Linked DNA regions of Homo sapiens: region 2 is linked to region 1. The links come from fine-mapping of genetic effects on gene expression. Tissue or cell type: whole blood. Region 1 holds a variant in brackets; the other region holds the start of a gene. All regions are shown on one strand. Distances are between the middles of the regions.

Evidence for each region. PIP is the estimated chance that this variant, and not a neighbour inherited with it, causes the effect.
Region 2: STX8 starts here. The variant in region 1 is fine-mapped to the expression of STX8 in whole blood (TOPMed, PIP above 0.99).

The regions. Positions count from the first base shown.
Region 1 is chr17:9,541,302-9,551,721 of GRCh38, reverse strand. It overlaps STX8 (syntaxin 8), which reads left to right. Exons shown (of 8, transcript NM_004853.3): 4 at 6,440-6,550. Among named protein-coding and RNA genes, the nearest start is that of STX8, 29 kb to the left of the region's middle. The variant G/A (reference allele first, on the strand shown) is at 5,816.
Region 2 is chr17:9,570,909-9,580,150 of GRCh38, reverse strand. It overlaps STX8 (syntaxin 8), which reads left to right and starts at 4,331. Exons shown (of 8, transcript NM_004853.3): 1 at 4,331-4,359. The coding sequence starts at 4,343. CFAP52 (cilia and flagella associated protein 52) reads right to left here and starts at 3,509. Exons shown (of 14, transcript NM_145054.5): 1 at 3,386-3,509. The coding sequence starts at 3,455. RefSeq lists enhancers at 3,247-3,376, 4,169-4,348.

The DNA.
Region 1 (10,420 bases):
TGTAATGTAGGAATAATCATACTTTGCCAGGTTATTGTACAAGTTGAAGAAAATCTTTTTTCTTCACAGGACTAGCCCCCCATAATGGTGGGTGTTGAATAAAAGGTGGTTACCAACACCCCTGGGGAAGTTACTTAACCTCTTTGTGCCTCATTTGTGGAATGGGATGCTAGAAGTCCACCTGGCGTAAAGGATTGTTGTGTAAGGATGAGATTATATGCATACAGGGTGCTTCACATATACTAAGTCCTCCTTGAGGATTAGCTGCTATTGATTATTTTATCATTATTGTAAAGATTTCAGCTACCATTGAGAATTTACAGGTCATCCTTTCTTTGTGGAGTTTTTAATCATGCATGATGGTTATGTCAAAACTCACAAACAATGATGGTATTAAAATAGTACTTGCAAAATGTGATCAGTGCTTTGAGGAAGGTAAGGACTTGGCCTGGTACATCATAAATATTTATTAGAGTTTGTTGACTTAAAAAAAGAAAGCCAGAAAAGTCTTTTGACCTCTAGAACCTTAAACTGTTCCCTTGCAGTTCTTCTTTTTTGGCATGGAGAATTAATTATCTGCAAACTTCTTCCTTCGCCAGAGCAGCTCTTTCACAAAATAAGGCTTACCTAAATTCTATTTTTTTTTGAGACGGAGTTTCACTCTTGTTGCCCAGTCTGGAGCACAATGGTGCGATCTCAGCTCACTGCAACCACCGCCTCACAGGTTCAAGCGATTCTCCTACCCCAGCCTCCCAAGTACCTGGGATTACAGGTGTGCACCACTACACCTGGCTAATTTTTGTGTTTTTGGTAGAGATGGGGTTTTGCCATGTTGGCCAGGCTGGTCTCAAACTCCTGACCTCAGGTGATTCACCCACCTCAACATCCCAAAGTGCTGGGATTACAGGTGTGAGCGACTGTGCCCAGCCTAAATTCTTAAGCCTTCTACCAAATATAAGAGAAAATCCAGGAGCTGGAGTGGGATTGGGTGACCTGTGGATCCAGTTGCATATTTACCCCGCTCCATCTGTGGTTCAAATGCTCACCAGGCTACAGCAGAGAAGCTGGACTTATGCATGCTGGTAGTAGGTATCAGTAATATGAAATCAGGATCCAGTTTTATTTTTATTTTTATTTATTTATTTTTTGAGATGGAGTCTCGCTGTGTCACCCAGGCTCGAGTGCAGTGGCACGATCTTGGCTCACTGCAAGCTCCACCTCCCGGGTTCACGCCATTCTCCTGCCTTAGCCTCCCGAGTAGCTGGGACTACAGGGGATCCAGTTTTATTTACAACCTTACATATCCATGAATTGGCTATAATTACATGTACAATCAGCATAGCCAAGGACAAAGTACTATGATAGTTAGCTCTTCTCTTCCTTTTCTTTATCTGTCTGTTCTCTTATCTTCTTCCTTGGCTATTCACCAGGTTGGTGGAAGAGGAGGTTCCCCAGCACTGGCCACTGACTGTGTGCTGTACTACTTTTTTTTTTTTTTGAGATGGAGTCTCACTTTGTTGCCCAGGCTGGAGTGCAGTGGCACGATCTTGGCTCACTGCAACCTCTGCCTCCCGGGTTCCAGCGATTCTCCTGCCTCAGCCTCCTGAGTAGCTGGGACTACAGGCGTGTGCCACCACACCCAGCTAATTTTTGTATTTTTTTAGTACAGATGGGGTTTCACCGTGTTGTCCAGGCTGGTCTCGAACTCCTGACCTCATGATCCGCCTGCCTCAGCCTTCCAAAGTGCTGGGATTACAGGCTTGAGCCACCGCGCTTGGCCTGTGTGTCCTACTTTCTACTTGTCCTTAGCATCACTCAGGCACACTGTTTCCCCACTACCCTACTTTACCCAACTGCTACGCACCTGTCCACATACATGCTGTATAGATTGTTTCCTGGATGATCCTTTGACCTCTTACTAATAACAACCCTTACATAGCAAGGGTGCTATGCAGATGGTTCATTAATCAATTTATTCTCATTCCATCTCCCTCCTCCCCATCTCCTTATGCTCTGTTCTCTCCGTAGATTAAAATATAAAACAAAGAGGCAGCATGTTCCTAATTGGATTGTTTTCCAGATTTACAGAGTCTCTGGGAATATTCTGAATTCGTACTCCCAGTATTGTTTTTATCAGGATTCTAAGAAGTGGCAAAGTTAAGTCAGCATCTCAAGGTGGAGAAGTCTGCAGAATGTTTGGTGGAAAAGCCATGAGCTAGGGTTGAAAGAGCTGTCACCTAGCATGGCTGTTAACCCAGGCAAGTGACTTAGCCATGCTCACCCTTAATTTCTGGTCAGCAAAACAAGAGAACTGGGATCTTTAAGGCCTCTTCTAGCATCAACTGTGTGGGTTTCTGTTCTTTGGTTACTCATCTACAAAACATAGTCATCAAGTTTTACTGTTTCTGAAACTGATGTTCTTTGTTAGCTCCTTCTTGACGTAAGTTTAAATCTGTAACTAGTATCTGCTGATTTTAAAATGTACCTTTATTGTTTTTATTACAAAAAATATTATACTTTCTACTGATACATTTCTCATTAGTTATTACCAATGACTCCTCTTTCTCTTCCTTATTCTATCCTGTCTCATCTCATTCTTTATAGTTAAGTGTTAATGGTTGGTAGCTAGTATCTCAGACTTTTCTAGGCTTGAAATATATGCATATGTAAACATAAAATTCCTTTGACTATAAAGGGATTATATTATACATATGGTTCTGAAGCTTGTGTTTTTATTAATTAGCAGATGATAGAGACAAACATTAGGAAACAATATTCAGTGAAACATCAGTCTCTCTTATACCCTTAATCCTCAGTTGTCCTTCCTTAGAGGCAATGTTTATATATCAGAAATTTTCTGTGTGTATATACACACATATATAGTTAGGATTTTTTTTTAACAAAGTGGGAGCACACTACTCACTGTTTAGCTCCTTGCTGCTGCTGTTTTTTTCCCCTCCTTTGGTTTAATGTTATATTTTGTAGATTATTCCATGTCAAATAATTCATGTAAACACTTAGTAAGTGCTCAAAAATGTTAATTATCATTATCAGCCCCCTAAACAGCTTTCCTATTCTTTTTTTAAGGCTGCAAAACATTCCATTGTTTACATACACTAGTTACTTATTGATATTTCCAATGTGGCTATTATAAATAATGGTTCAGTGGACATCCTTGCTTCTAAGTCCTTGTAGGACTGTATCTGAGGAAGAAATGTCTGTTGAAAGACTGTACCTTTTATATTTTGTTAGGTATTTAGAAGGCAGTCTAGCAGTTGGTTGAACCTGTTTGCATTCCTATCAAGAATGTATGAGGTGGCCGGGTATGGTGGCTCATGCCTGTAATCCCAGCACTTTGGGAGGCCGAGGTGGGTGGATCACTTGAGGTCAGGAGTTCGAGACCAGCCTGGACAACATGGTGAAACCCCATCTCTACTGAAAACACAAAAATTAGCTGGGCATGGTGGCATGTGCATGTAATCCCAGCTACTTGGGAGGCTGAGGCAGGAGAATTGCTTAAACTCTGGAGCTGGAGGTTGCAGTGAGCCAAGATCATGCCACTGCACTCCAGGCTGGGCGACAGAGGGAGACACTGTCTCAAAAAATAATAATAATAATAAAGAAAGAATGTATAAGGTCAGGTGAAGTGGCTCATGCTTGTAATCCCAGCACTTTGGGAGGCAGGAGGGTCACTTTAGATTAGGAGTTTGAGACCAGCCTGGCCAACATGGTGAAATCCTGTCTCTCAAAAAAACCCACAAAAATTAGCTGGGTGTGGTGGTGGACACCTGTAATCCCTGCTACTTGGGGAGCTGAGAGGAGAATTGCTTGAACCCAGGTAGTGGAGGTTGCAGTGAGCCAAGGTTGCAACACTGCATTTCAGCCTGGGATGATAGAGCAAGACTCCATCTTAACAAAACAAAACAAAAAAAAAAAAAAGAAAAGAAAAGAAAAGGAAAGAATGTATGAGAGTGTCTGGTTCCTTGTCCCTTTCCAAAACTGTCTTCTCAGTTTCCTAATCTGATAGGTGGAAGTGGTATCTTGTTTTAGTGTGTATTTCTTTTCTTTTCTTTTCTTTTTTCTTTTTTTTTTTTGAGACGGAGTCTTGCTCTGTCACCCAGGCTGGAGTGCAGTGGCACAGTCTCGGCTCACTGCAACCTCCGCCTCCCGGGTTCAAGTGATTCTCCTGCCTCAGCCTCCTGCGTAGCTGCGATTGTGCGCCACCATGCCCAGCTAATTTTTGTGTTTTTAGTAGAGATGGGGTTTCACCATATTGGTCAGGCTGGTCTCGAACTCCTGACCTCGTGATCCACCTGCCTTGACCTGCTGGGATTACAGGCGTAAGCCACCACACCTGGCCAGATATATTTTAAAAGTGTTTGTTAGCTTTCTCCACTCATTCATTTTATGGCAGAAGTTGTTTCCAAACATATCCTTTACTGTGTTTCTTTTTTCTTTTTTTTTTTTTTTTTTTTGAGACAGAGTCTCGCTCTTTCACCAGGCTGGAGCGCAGTGGCGCGATCTCGGCTCACTGCAACCTCCGCCTCCCGGGTTCAAGCGATTTTCCTGCCTCAGCCTCCCGAGTAGCTGGGACTACAGGCGCACGCCACCACGCCTGGCTAGTTTTTATATTTTTAGTAGAGACGGGGTTTTACCGTGTTTGCCAGGATGGTTTCCATCTCTTGACCTTGTGATCCGCCCACTTCAGCCTCCCAGAGTGCTGGGATTACAGGCGTTGAGCCACCGCGTCCAGCCCTTCTGTGTTTCTTAACATACCACACACATAGACACAGTTCAGCCTAAAAACAAACAAACAAAAACTTGTGTCTGGGCGCACTGGCTCACACCTGTAATCCCAGCACTTTGGGAGGCTGAGGTGAACGGATCATGAGGTCAAGAGATCGAGACCATCCTGGCCAACATGGTGAAAACCTGTCTCTACCAAAAATACAAAAAATTAGCTGCGCGTGGTGGCACGTGCCTGTAGTCCCAGCTACTCAGGAGGCTGAGGCAGGAGAATCGCTTGAACCCGGGTGGCGGAGGTTGCAGTGAGCCGAGATCGCGCCACTGCACTCCAGCCTGTAGACAGAACAAGGCTCCGTCTCCAAAAAAAAAAAAAAAAAAAAAAAACCACTTTTGTAGTTTGCATCAAGAAAGCTAGTATATAAAACTTTGTACTTAGTCCAAGGGAAGTGGCGCCGGTTGTTGACAGACGCCACTTCCCTTTTTGCTTCATGCGCACGCGCCGCATTCTCGTCCACCTATTGGTGAATTGTAGGTTTCTTTCCAAAGACTACATTTCCCAGAAGGATGGTTGTTTGGTTTTTTTTTTTTAACCATCACTTATGAATTGTTGTGGAAAAGATGTTAGAGACTATTTAGTGTTACATATAAAGAAAGAGAGATCCCAAAAGGTGAAATAACTGGTTCAAGAGCATAGATAGTGGAATAGGGCTACAACTCTGCCTCTGGGGCTCCTAGTCTAGCGTGTTTGCTAGATTCACACATTAAAATGATTCTCTTTGTAATTTTCTTTACAAATCATGCAATGTATTTAAATAGTGAACTGATGGTAACAATTTATAGAGCAAATCTGTTGCATAAAGTAGCACTTTATAAATATCCTAGGTGTGTTAATAGATATTAACATGGAAGAAAGAGAGCAATATAGAGAACTTCTCTCCCCCAGCGCCCCCACTTTTTTAAACAGAGCATCTTAGGGTATTAATATGTAGGAAAATGCCCTGGAACACTGACACACACATATAACTCAAAACCTAAGGAATCACTGAGCCAGGTTGCACCATTGGCAGGA[G/A]AAGTCATTTAAATTTGGTCACTGGGGCTGGGCGTGGTGACTCACGCCTTGTAATTCCAGCACTTTGGGAGGCCAAGGCAGGCAGATCACCTGAGGTCATGAGTTCGAGACCAGCCTGGCCAGCATGGCAAAAACCCGTCTCTAATAAAAATACAAAACTTAGCCGGTTGTGGTGGTGCACGTCTGTAAGCCCAGCTACTCGGGAGGCTGAGGCAGGAGAACTGCTTGAACCCGGGAGGCAGAGGTTGCAGTGGGCCGAGATCGCGCCATTGCACTCCAGCCTGGGCGACAGAGCGAGACTCTGTCTCAAAAATAAGTAAATAAGTTTGGTCACGGGGAGGAAAGTAATATTTACCTGGTATATTTCTCAATGAAAAACTTGTGTCATGATCCACGTCAGTGTTTATAAGTGCCTCTGCGATGGTCCTGCCAAGGTCCTTTACCTGACGGCCTGGTGAAGGTGAAGGTCAGAGCAGGAAAAACGCAAGAGTGGTGCGCATCCCTTCTGGGTAGTAGTGATTACAGTCTGTAAAAGCCACAACTGACTTGAAGAGCTAACTTAATAATGTAATAGTTAAAACGAGGTCATTTATTCACCATTGAACCTTAACAAGATATCTGCAGAACACAGCTTGAAGGGGACCGAAGACAGAACCTCTTGGATGATCTTGTAACTCGAGAGAGACTACTTCTGGCATCCTTTAAGAATGAGGGTGCCGAACCAGATCTAATCAGGTAGGATGTTTTTATTTACAGGGATTACTTGGTGGGCGAAGACTTCTTTGCAGATACTACAGCTGTTTCCTGAATGGCTTACTTTAGGAATTAATCAAAATCTATTCTATTCATTTATGGTGTTTGACTATAATTTTCTACTCAATTTAGTTTTCGTTAATTTTTGTTTGTTTGTTTGAGACAGAGTCTCGCTCTGTCACCCAGGCTGGAGTGCAGTGGCGTGATCTTGGCTCTCTGCAAGCTCCACCTCCCAGGTTTCCACCATTCTACTGCCTCAGCCTCCCAAGTAGTTGGGATTACAGGCGCCCACCGCCACCGTGCCCGACTAATTTTTTGTATTTTTAGTAGAGATGGGGTTTCACCGTATTAGTCAGGATGGTCTCGATCTCCTGACCTCGTGATCCGCCCGCCTTGGCCTCCCAAAGTGCTGGGATTACAGGTGTGAGCCACTGCGCCCGGCCAGTTTTCGTTAATTTTCTGGGTTTAGTAAACCAGGTATGTTCAGCTGAATCCCATCTTGGGTGGAACATACTAAGGGAGACTGTGGGTGAAGTCAGAACATTTCTTTGGCATTCTTTGGTTGAGTTTTCTGCTTTGTTAACTGCCTTCTAAACTCCTGAGGTCACTACTTCTCTGTGTGGGCAAAGCAGTTTTTTGTTTTTTTTTTTAATTGGCATATTGAGAACATGAGTCCTAATAAGACTGGTCCGGGGCTCACAGAGGCAAAGGAGTTGGATCCTCCTCCCCATTCTTCGCCAGTGAGTGATTCACACTTCAAAGAGCTGACAGCTGCTCTGAGCCCGGTTCTGCTGGAAGACCTGGAGGACGGGTCGGGCTTTCCAAGGCTGAGGTTGATGAACCGTAAATTGCTACCTCTTTAGAATTGGCCTCCCCCTGTTTCTAGAACTTCCTTAGCTTCATCGTGGGAACCATCACAGAAGGCAATGAGCTTGGGTGGAAACCCGCCTCTCCTCATCTTCCACGCTAGGGTTGATGCATTTATCGTGGAGAGGAGCTTGTTTCTAGTTGGTTTCCAGTTAGGAATAGTGTGGCTTCCCAAGGGCAGTGGTTTTGGACCCTAGCCGTGCATTGTCAGACTCCACCTCTGACAGGTGAACCAGAGTGGGATTGCGGTGGAGGGGCAGAGGGGCAGGGAGGTCTCAGGTGATTCTAATATACAACCCAGATTGCAAACAACTGCCTAGAACAAGCTGAAGAAAATGAAACTGATTTTCCTGTGGGTTCCAGTCTTCTCAGGAGCGGCGATCCAAGGTTCCATGAAGAAACTGTGAAATACAGGAAGGTAGATGAAATGTTAAGTTGCTTCTGTGAAGAAATGAACCTAAGAGTCAGTTAGGGAGGGGTGATACTCTGTTGGCAGTCTCCTGGGCAGGGTTTAAATGAAGATAGAAGCCTGTGCTGGGCCAATCTACTGTGGTTCCCAATATTTCCCTGGCATATTCAGTCCCAGGGTACAGGGGTGAAGTATGTGGATGAAGGTGGTGGTCCAGGTTGGTCAAAGAGAACAGGTGAGCAAAGGAATCAAAGGTGAAAAGAAAGTACTGTCGCCTGGGTGCAGTGGCTCACGCCTGTAAGCCTAGCACTTTGGGAGGCCAAGGTGGGTGGATTGCCTGAGCTCAGGAGTTTGAGACCAGCCTGGGCAACAAGGTGAAATGCCATCTCTACTAAAATACAACAACAACAACAAAAAAGTAGCCGTTGTGGTGGCGGGCACCTGTAGTCCCAGCTACTCAGGAGGCTGAGGCAGGAGAATTGCTTGAACCTGGGAGGTGGAGGTTGCAGTGAGCCGAGATCACGCCACTGCACTCCAGCCTGGGCGACAGAGCAAGACTCCGTCTCAAAAAAAAAAACCAAAAAACTGTCTTCTAGAAGGGGCTTTACACTGAAGGCAGAGTCTTTTTAGTCAAGAAATTAATAAGGACATAGGTAGGACGGGGAGCTTGTTTCATGGAGGAATAGTGGTCATGTAGACAGATGATGGTCAGAAAGAGGACAAAACATTCAGACTATTCTGCTTGGTAGTGATGAGGCAGTCGTGATGAATAGTCATGGTTCCCATTTGAGAAGAGCATGTTTTGCACCAGACTCTGCTCTTTGCTTCTCATTAATTGTGCCACTTAATGATGCTGAAGGGGCCAACCTAGGAATTTAGGCTGAGGACCTCTGAAGTCTTCCCACCAGGTCCTTGTTTGTTTTGTTAGTTTTTGGTCCCCGCTTGCCTGCCTTTGTCACCCCTCTTCTCTGATCATCTCTGTGTCCTTTACAGTGTGACTTGCTGATAAGCAGCATCAGCATCACCTGGCAGTGTGTTACAAACTCAGAATTTTCCAACCCGAACCCCAAACTACAGAATTAAAACTTGCATTCTAACAAGATCATCAGGTGATTTGAATGCACATTACAATTTAAGAAATAACTGCTTTGTATCATTTATTCCTTATTTATTTATTTATTTATTTATTTATTTATTTTTTGAGATGGAGTCTTGCTCTGTCGCCCAGGCTGGAGTGCAGTGGCGCAATCTTGGCTCACTGCAAGCTCCGCCTCCCAGGTTCACACCACTCTCCTGCCTCAGCCTCCCGAGTAGCTGGGACTACAGGCGCCCGCCACCATGCCCGGCTAATTTTTTGTATTTTTAGTAGAGACAGGGTTTCACCATGTTAGCTAGGATGGTCTCGATTTCCTGACCTCGTGATCTGCCTGCCTCGGCCTCCCAAAGTGCTGGGATTACAGGCGTGAGCCACAGCTCCCGGCCCTTGTTTTTTTGTTGTTGTTTTTGTTTGTTTTGTTTTTGAGACGGAGTTTTGCTGTGTCACCCAGGCTTGAGTGCAGTGGCACAATTTCAGCTCGCTGCAACCTCCGCCTCCCGAGTTCAAGTGATTCTCCTGCCTCAGCCTCCCGAGTAGCTGGGATCACAGGCACGCACTACCACGCCTGGCTAATTTTGTATGTTTGGTAGAGATGAGGTTTTACCATGTTGGCCAGGCTGGTCTTGAACTCCTGACCTCAGGTGATCTGCCTGCCTCAGCCTCCCAAAACGCTGGGATTACAGCCATGAGCCACTACACCTGGCCTGTGTCATTTATTCTTAATCGTGGCACTTTGCATCAGAATCACCCAAGAGAGAATGGAAAAAAAAAAAAAAATACAAATGTTTAGACCATGTACTTGCAGAGTCTGATTCATAGTCTTGGGTGAGGCCTGGGCAGCAGTAAGGCTGGGGAGACTACCGGGTGGTTTTAGTAGGTGGCAGGGTTAGAACGACTGCTCTATGTCACAGTGTACTAGTCATGAGACCTATAGCTTATGTCTGCTATTTGTTTTTTATATGGTAGGCACTGTGCTAAGCTCTTTATGTGCATTTGCTCAGGAGCTCTTTATAATGCCCCATTTTGCAGAAGAGAAACAGGCTCAGAGGGTTCAAGATTCTAAAGCTAATCAGTCATAGAACTTGGATTTTAGCTCTGAACTTGTAACCATTGCACCATAAAAAGAGCTGGATGAGGTGTTAGAAGGACCCAGTTCTGTAGCTTTCTAGTCTGTCAGTCATGTGGGCTTTGAAGTCATTGACCTTAGACTGGGGATACATGTGCTGCCCATTTTTCGTTGTTGTTAGGACCAGATGAAGTGATTGCTATGAGACAGGCTTTGTAAACTCTAAGACCTTTATAAATACAAGATGTTATTACTGGAGCATTGTGTCTCCATCCGGCTAGGAGGGAACTCAGGCTGCCTCATTGCTTCGGAGATCTTCTGTCCCTCGTGCCCTGCCCCCTGATTGCTCTAGAAGGACGTGGTCTGTCTGACCCCATCATACGCTGCACCTGGTCCTCTGCCCTCCATTCTCCT
Region 2 (9,242 bases), 29 kb before region 1:
TTTGGCCCATGGGCTATAGTTTGTAGACTCCTGATCTATTTTGTTGTTGTTGCTGTTTTTAGTTTACAAGAACTCTTTGTATACCATAATAGGAAAATCATGGGCTACCTACTCCAGTCAATGGATGAATGTGACCAAACCCTTAATAACTATAACTTTATTAAATGTTTTTAACACAAGTATATTTGGTTTGCTTAAATAATTAATTCCTGCCAAAATGCAATACCTACAAGTGTCAAGTACAGTTACATATTGATACCATAAAGTTAAAATTCAAGTTTAAGGCCAGTCGCAGTGGCTCACGCCTGTAATCCCAGCACTTTGGGAGGCCGAGGCGGGTGGATCACCTGAGGTCAGGAGTTCAAGACCAGCCTGGCCAACGTGGCGAAACACCGTGTCTATTAAAAATACAAAAATTAGCCAGGCGTGGTGGTGGATACCTGTAATCCCAGCTACTTGGGAGGCTGAGGCAGGAGAATCACTTGAACCCATGAGGCAGAGGTTGCAGTGAGCTGAGATCGCACCACTGCACTCCAGCCTGGGAGACAGGGTGAGACTCCATCTCAAAAACAAAATTCAAGTTGAATAATGTAACACTATAGTGAGTTTCAGTGTTGCAGTGAAAAAAGGGGCCTTGCTTTTGTTTCTAATTTGTTTCCATCTGAAATCTAAACTCAATCACTTGGCATTTAAGGCCTCTGAAATCTAATTCCAGCTTCTCTTTCCTGTGTTATCCTGCCAGTCCCTGATACTGAAGCCACCCCAAGCTATTTGCCGTTCTGCAACCAGGCCCTGCACTCTCCACTTTTCCTCCTCTGCCCCCCGCTATTGCTGTAACCCGAAATATTCTGCCTTCAATCTTTACCCGCTGACTCCTAGTCAAAATCTTCTCTCCCGAGCCTTATGAAAGTTCTGTCTTTTCTCTCTCTCCCTCTTTTTTTTAGAGCTAGTATAGTTTTTTAAAATAAACATTTTTCAGTGAAGACAAAATACAGAAAACTCAATCACTTTTGTAAACTAAAAATAAAATCATAAGCTCCCCAATCCCCACGCTGCCCCACCCCAGCCACTGACTGAACAGATCCCCTTTTGGACAAAGGGACCCCCAAAACACCTTAAAGCAGAGTTCCCAGCCTTGACGGAATGGGAGGTCAGACATGCCTCATTATACCCCCTCTCTTTTGTGGTTTAGACACAACTGATCAGCATTAATGTTAAAATAGAGATCATAAGATTGACAGACTGTGTGGCAATAAGATATCAAATTATAAACAGGACCTAAGGCCATGCACCCCTCCACCCTGTGGCTGGGTGTGGTGGCTCAAGCCTGTAATCCCAGCACTTTGGGAGGCCAAGGCGGGTGGATCACCTGAGGTCAGGAATTGGAGACTAGTCTGGCCAACTTGGTGAAACCCCGTCTCTACTAAGAATACAAAAATTAGCCAGGCGTGGTGGTGGGTGCTTATAATCCCAGCTACTCTGGAGGCTGAGGCAGGAGAATAGCTTGAATCCAGGAGGTGGAGGTTGCAGTGAGCCGAGATTGTGCCATTACACAACAGAGCGAGACTCCACCGTCTCAAAATAAATAAATAAAATAAACTATACACTGCCACAAGGTTTTTCTTTTTCTCTGGCAGCTAAACAAGCACTTATCTTGAGATAAGCAATATGAAAACAACTGCAACCTGTCCAGTTCATAGGCACTTACTAACTGAAGCCCTGTTCAACCCGCCATAAGAACAATTTTGATTGGACAACAGAGTGATTTCAGTAATGTTCTCCTGGCAAGAAGACCACTCACCACGGACTACCTCTGGCCAGTTTACTGAGGCTTCCCACTTAACGTGCCGTCATGTCCTGAAAAGGCCTTTTGACATATAGGACCTAATTGTAATACATTTAAATGTTAGGTCTCCATCCCAAGGTGAATATGAGTGATATATTACATCAATGTTTGTTCAATACACATGTGTTGGGACCACCTTCATGAGTATTCATAGCTCCTCCTATAACCTGTTGAATATGTATGTTTGTTTGTTTATTTATTTATTTATTTTTTGAGACGGAGTCTCGCTCTGTCCCCCAGGCTGGAGTGCAGTGGCGTGACCTTGGCTCACTGCAACCTCTGCCTCCCAAGTTCAAGTGATTCTCCTCCCTCAGCCTCTCAAGTAGCTGGGATTACAGGCACCTACCACCACGCCCGGATAATTTTTGTATTTTTAGTATAGATGGGATTTCACCATGTTGGACAGGATGGTCTCGAACTCCTGACCTCAGGTGATCTACCTGCCTTGGCCTCCCAAAGCGCTGGGATTACAGGCATGAGCCACTGCCCCCGGCCTCAGTTGCAGAGTTCTATGTGTGTGGTTCTACATTGGCTCAACAAGTGACATTATGCAACCCACTGTAGGCTGCTCAATTGTTTCTCAATGATCTTGTAACCAACTCTCAAGATATCTGATATCCGAAATGTATAAAGCACTCACTTTCTATTGGAGACTGTTAAAGTTAAACCAAGAGTCAAGAGCTAAGTCCTAGAGTATGCTTAAAACTTTAGACAGTGATTGTTCTGCATCCACATTCTTAAAGCTTTCAGGCATCACAACACACATTTTTGAAAAGTTTTGCTTCTCCTAAAATCTAATTCATTGTTTTCTCATCCCTCAAAAAACCAAAACCCCTCAAAACGAACAATAAAACCCCACAGCTTTTTCTTCCCAGAATCTTCAAAACAATAGGCAGTCACAAATAAGATTTCAGCGGAGCGGCCCAGTCCCTTTTTCTCTCCGCTTTAGCTCCCCCTGGCGTCCCCTTCCCCTTCTGTCCTGGTCTGAAATCCTCATCATTTAGAAACCTTCCTTAGGATTAGAGGACCAACAACATCCCCTCAGGGGGTTGCTCAAACACACGTTCCCTCCCAGCCCTTTCTCACTGGTACGCCAGTTGGGATTTTAGCAGATTTCCTAGCTGGTCCCAGGGGCCGACACAGACAGCATCCTTCTGTGTGGTTACGAAGGAGCCTAGGGCTTTGCGAGCGGCGTGGGGTTCAGAGCCAGGAAGGGCTGACCTAGTGGGAGAAGGGTTACAACCACCCGTACTCATCCGGCCCGCCTGGGGAAGAGGCATTTGGTCCCTTTTAGGTGCTGGCGCTTGTCCGAGCTGGTAAAAACCATCTCACTCCCTGAGGCTTGGATCGAGGAAGTGACTCTCCAAGGCCTTGGGGCAGGTCAGGCTGTGCGGGTCCTCCTGTGCGTGTCCCTGGCCAGGGCTCCTGCCGTTGTCCCACACTGCCTTTCAGGTGTCCCCGGTGTCTCACTATTCCTGTTTGCACTACACGTCCTCCGAATTCCTAAACCAGCCAGCCCAAAGATGCTGGAGGCCTCACCATTGAAGCCGATCACGGCGTCAAGTTCCAGCTCCGCCACTTGGGCCTCCGGCGAAATTTTGTTATCCATCCTTGGGAGGTTCTGATTACTTTGCTCTCCTCCCTAGTGGCTGCAGCGTCTTCTGGTCGTTATGGTAACGGACGAGCGCATGCGCTCCAGCTCCACGCCCGCGCAGAAACCCAGCCTGCCGAGTTCGAGTTCATTAGCATTCTTGGAAATGAAGGGGTATGGGGACTGGAAGAGAGATGGGGTGGGACTCCTCTTCTTTTTTTTTGTGCTATTTCTCTGGAAATTTAGGGGATGGCACTAACTGCGCAGAACTAATTCCTCCATCCCCTTGTGTAGAGTCTGTGACTTCTTAGTAACTCTAAAATCAAGCACCGAATGAATGGCATTTAAAAAATATGTAATCAGGCGTACAGGACTGATAGGAAGGCTGCTATAAAAAATATATATAATTGATACTTCTTTGGGCCCCTGTTTGGAGCAGTGTGAAAAAAATTTTAAAGATTTTTTAAAAAGCGTTGAGGTATAATTTACATATCATAAAGTTAACTTAAAGTAGGTTGTAGTGAGTTTACGCAGCGTGCAAGTCTCACCGCAATCTAGTGTTTTGTTTATTGTTTTGTTTTTGAAGCAGGATAAATTTTTAAGTAACTGCTACAGAGAGGTCTTGCAGCGCTCCCACCTTCCTGGGAAAATGCTTTGTTTCTATTTAACAATTTTAACTGAGCTTAGCAGTTCGCGTCTCTTGGTGGGAGTAGATTGCTCCAGTGTACTGTCCGCAGGGGAGCGCTTTGCTTTCTCTGATTATAGTTCTGAGGCCCTAGCTACTCACTTTGCAAACTCCAGGCTCCGGTCGCGCACGGGACGAACTGCGGGGAGTGAGCCGCGCGGGCCGCCGTAGTCAGCTGCTAAGAGCAGGAAGAGTCCGAGCGGCGGGCGGAGTCTGCAGGATGGCACCGGACCCCTGGTGAGTCCCGGGTGAGGGCGGCGGTGCGTGGAGGGACCTTCGGGGAGGCCGGGCTTCCGGAGAGCAGGCAATCACTTCGCATTGCCGCTGGTGGCCTTTCGGGATGAGGGGAGGGGCAGCGAGACCTTTCCTTTACTGAGGGGGCTCAGCCACATCCCGCCACACTTGGTCCTTGCAAGGGTGGCCCGGGAAGGAGACCAGGTGGTCCGCTGGAGAGCTGAGGACTTACGCCAAATCTCTGAATATTCCTTTAGCTTTTCTGGGCTGCATCTCGTTGCGGGGATTTCCCGCCCATCCTGGTTTTGGAGCTAGCTGGCTGGTGCAGGCTTCCCTGGACTCCTATAAAAGTGAAGTCGAAATAACGTTTTTGTAGCATGTCAGTCCATCCCGGTAAACCCCCTTATTTCACAGGTGGAGAAACCGAGGTTCAGAATCCATGGCCACCAGCCAGTTAGTAACCAGCTGGGGCTAAGACCTAGATCTTGGGGGCCCTTCCAGATACAGGAACCTGGGAGGGAAATTGTGCACTTGTTTATAAGGCATTTTGCACTTTCTTGAGTTAATATCATGAAGTCTTTTCCTTTAGCAGTAGCTTCTGCAGTAAAACAATAGCTGATAAGGGTGATTTATTTAGCAGTTAATCCCAAGGACTGCATGATGAAAGATGCAACTTTTGATCCCAAGGAACATATTGTTTGATCCCAAGGAACGTATTGTTATTGAACATAGACTTGACCTTTCTGCTTAATAATTAAAAACATATTACAGCTCTATAACGTTCTTGTTGGAATATGTGTCTTATGTTGTTATTTCTAATATAGTTTATAATTGTTTAAGTTGCCCACATCCTGGATATTAGAAGAATGGATTCCAAGAACAAAGTTGAGTTACCTGGAATCTAGGTTATTTGGGCCAATTATTTAATTTAGCATTTACTTTTTTAAACCTAATTTTAGGCCGGACGCGGTGGTGGCTCACGCCTGTAATCCCAGTACTTTGGGAGGCCGAGGCAGGCAGATCACCTGAGGTCGGGAGGTCGAGACCAGCCTGACCAACATGGAGAAACCCCGTCTCTACTAAAAATACAAAATTAGCCGGGCATGGTAGTACATGCCTGTAATCCCAGCTACTCGGGAGACTGAGGCAGGAGAATCGCTTGAACCCGGGAGGTGTAGGTTGTGGTGAGCTGAGATCGTGCCATTGCACTCCAGCCTGGGCAACACGAGCGAAACTCCGTCTCAAAAAAAAATAAAAAACCCCAAAATCCCTAATTTTAACAGTTATATACACCCCTTGATAGAGAATATTCAATTTAGAGAATATTGAAAATTTGCAAAAAGGAAAATAAATAGCATCTTTAACTCTATAATTTGGAAATAGCCATTAATGATTTTTTTACAATGAATTTGTTATTTTAATCTATATTTTTATATATATATATAATATAAACAGCATTTCTCTATGTCATTGGACATTCTTTGAAAGCATAACTTTCTTTTCTTCTTTTTTTTTTTTTTGAGACGGAGTCTTGCTCTGTCTGTCACCCAGGCTGGAGTGCAATGGCGCGATCATGGCTCACTGCAACCTCCACCTCCTGGGCTTAAGCAACTCTCCTGCCTCAGCCTCTGGAGTAGCTGGGACTACAGGCGCACGCAGCCACGCCCAGCTAATTTTTTGTATTTTAGTAGAGACAGGGTTTTACCGTGTTGCCTAGGCTGATCTTGAACTCCTGAGCTCAGGCAATCTGCCCGCCTTGGCCTCCCAAAGTGCTGGGATTACAGGTGTGAGCCACCGCACCTGGCCTCATAATTGTCTTATGTTGCAAAATAATGCATCACATGAATGACCATAATTTATTTTTCTCCTATTAGTTTTTTGTTTTTCTGATGTTTTGTTTTGTTTTATCATTGCAAAGGGAGTCCCTTTGTTCTATCTCTTATTTCCTTGGGCTCCCTGTCTAGAAGTAGGAATTAGAACTGTTGAAAGTGAAGCATTTATACTTTTTTTGTTATTCTCAATCAGTTTGACTAAGTGGCTTTCTCATTAGACTGTTGAAAGTGAAATAGAACTGTTGGGCTCAAGGGTATAAACATTTTTAAGGCCCTTGATACTGTGAACCCCAAAGTATCTGAGACAGGTCTCAGTCAATTTAGAAAGTTTATTTTGCCAAGGTTAAGAATGCACCCATGACACAGCCTCAGGAGGTTCTGAAGACCTGTGCCCAAGGTGGTTGGGGAACAGCTTGCTTTTATACAATTTAGGGAGAATAATACATGAATTAATACATGTAAGATTTATGATGGCTCAATCCAGAAGGGAGGGACACCTCGAAGGGCGTGGGGGGCTTCCAGGTCATAAGTAGATTGAAAAATTTTCTGATTGGCAATTGGTTGAGTTATTATCAATAGAAACGAATGTCTGGGTTATGATAAGGGGTAGTGGAGACCAAGATTTTATTATGCAAATGAAGCCTCTGGGTAGCAGGCTTTAGAGAGAATACATTGTAAGTGTTTCTTATCAGACTTAAGGTCTGTATTGACGTTAATGCTGGTTGGCTTTTCCTGAATTCCAAAAAGGAGGAGAGGATATATAATGAGGCATGTCTGATCCCCTCTTCCCATCATGGCCTGAACCAGTGTTTCAGGTTAACTTTGGAATGCCCTTGCCTTAGAGTAGGGGTCCGTTCAGATGGTTGCGGGGGTGGGGGGGGGTGTTGGGGGTGGGCTTAGAATTTTATTTTGGTTTACAATACATATTCCTAAGTTGCCCTCCACCTTCTGGAACCTAAATCCCTCAGTTTACAAATCAAGTAGGAAATAAAGGTCAAAGATAAGGGACAGGCCCCCAGTTATCTATTTAGATTGGTGGAAGCTATCACTGGACCCCAAGCTTCTTCCGCAGTTAATGTTGATAAAGCATTGAGACTTTTTCTGTTATACTTCATTAGTTTGATGAAGTGGCTTTCTCATTGGACTATTGAGAGTGAAACAGTGAGACACTCAGCTGTGCTCCCAAAGCACAAAATGGGTCGCTGATTAGGGGGGTAGAAAGGAGTATGGGAAGGGACTTGAAAAACCTATAAAAGGCCAGGTGTGGTGGCTCACACCTGTAATCCTAGCACTTTGGGAGGCTGAGGCAGGCGGATCATAAGGTCAGGAGTTCGAGACCAGCCTGACCAACATGGTGAAACCCCGTCTCTACTAAAAACGCAAAAATTAGCTGGGCATGTTGGTGTGTACCTGTAATCCCAGCTACTCAGGAGGCTGAGGCAGGAGAATCACTTGAACCCAGGAGGTGGAGGTTGCAGTGAGCCGAGATTGCGCCACTGCACTTCAGCCTGGGCGACAGAGCGAGACTCCATGTCAAAACAAAACAAAACAAACAAACAAAAACAACCTATAAAAACAGATTCAACTACAGCTTTACCTTTGTGTTGCTAAAATCATAGGTCATTGGCACCTCCCTCAGTGTCTAGCAATGGAATATAGCAGTTACTATTTTAATGGCCTATCAAAGCAAGTGGTAAGCTCGCTGTTTAACAGAAGGAGCCCATGATCACTGTCTCTGAACTGGCTCTTTGCTAATGTTAATTAGCTTTACCTCCAGGGTAACTAATTTGTTGATGATGTACCATTTCCAGAAAAATTACAGTTAAACCTTAATAGTTTTATATCCTGATTGGACTTTTTATGTTGGTAGCATGGTCTTCTTTGTGTTGAATTGCTTTTTAAAAACTTTATTTTGGAAGGTAAAAGATACACAAACTAGAATAGTATAATGGGCCCCTTTCATACTCACCACCCAATTTCTGTGATTATCAATATTCTGCCATTCTTGTTTCATCTCTACCCTCCACACCTTTTTTTTTTTTAATTTTGAGATGGAGTCTTGCTCCGTCGCCCAGGCTGGAGTGCAGTGGCATGATCTTGGCTCACTGCAACCTCTGCCTCCTGAGTTCAAGTGATTCTCCTATCTCAGCCTCCCGAGTAGCTGGGATTACAAGCACCCGCCACCATGCCCGGCTAATTTTTGTATTTTTAGTAGAGATGGGGTTTTGCCATGTTGGCCAGGCTGGTCTTGAACTCCTGACCTCAGGTGATCACCCGTCTTGGCCTCCCAAAGTGCTGGGATTACAGGTGTGAGCCACTACGCCTATGCCCGGCCCAGATTACTTTTTTTTTTTTTTTTTTTTGAGACAAAGTCTTGCTCTTGTCCCCCAGGCTGGAGTGCGATGGCACAATCTCGGCAAACTGCAACCTCTGCCTCCCGGGTTCCAGCGATTCTCCTGCCTCAGCCACCCCCCGACCCAATTACTTTTTCTAAACTAGTACTTCAGGCACCTGTGTGCTTGATAGTGTAATGAGGTTGTCTATTGCCCCAGGCCAAGGGTTCCCGCCCGGACTTTACCGCAGATTGGAATCACTTGGAGAGCTTTTAAAGCTCCCCACGCACGCCCAGGACAAACCCCATACCAGTTGAGTCAGAATGCTGAGGTTGGGACCAGGCATTGTTATTTTTTTAAAGATTCCCCAGTGATTCCAACTTGTTTCAGAACTATTGCTCTTTAGGGCTAAAATAACAACACAAGGACTGGAGTCAGGACACCTGGGAGTTTGTGCTAGCTGTGTGCATTTCTCATAACCTCTTTAGGGCCACTCTCTGTGTGTAAAAGTGTTCTCTATGGCTCTGAAATTCTCCTTTAAGTCTAACCTTGTTAGACTGGTGTTCAAGGCTCTGCAGAAACTAGCTTCTACTCATCTCTACCATTTTATACTTAACAGGCTTCCAGGGCCACCACGCAGCCAAATGTGCCGGGCACGTTTCCTTCCATTCATCTTTGCTCGCCCTGTCTTTCACTAAGTCTAGAATGTGCTCCTCCCTCC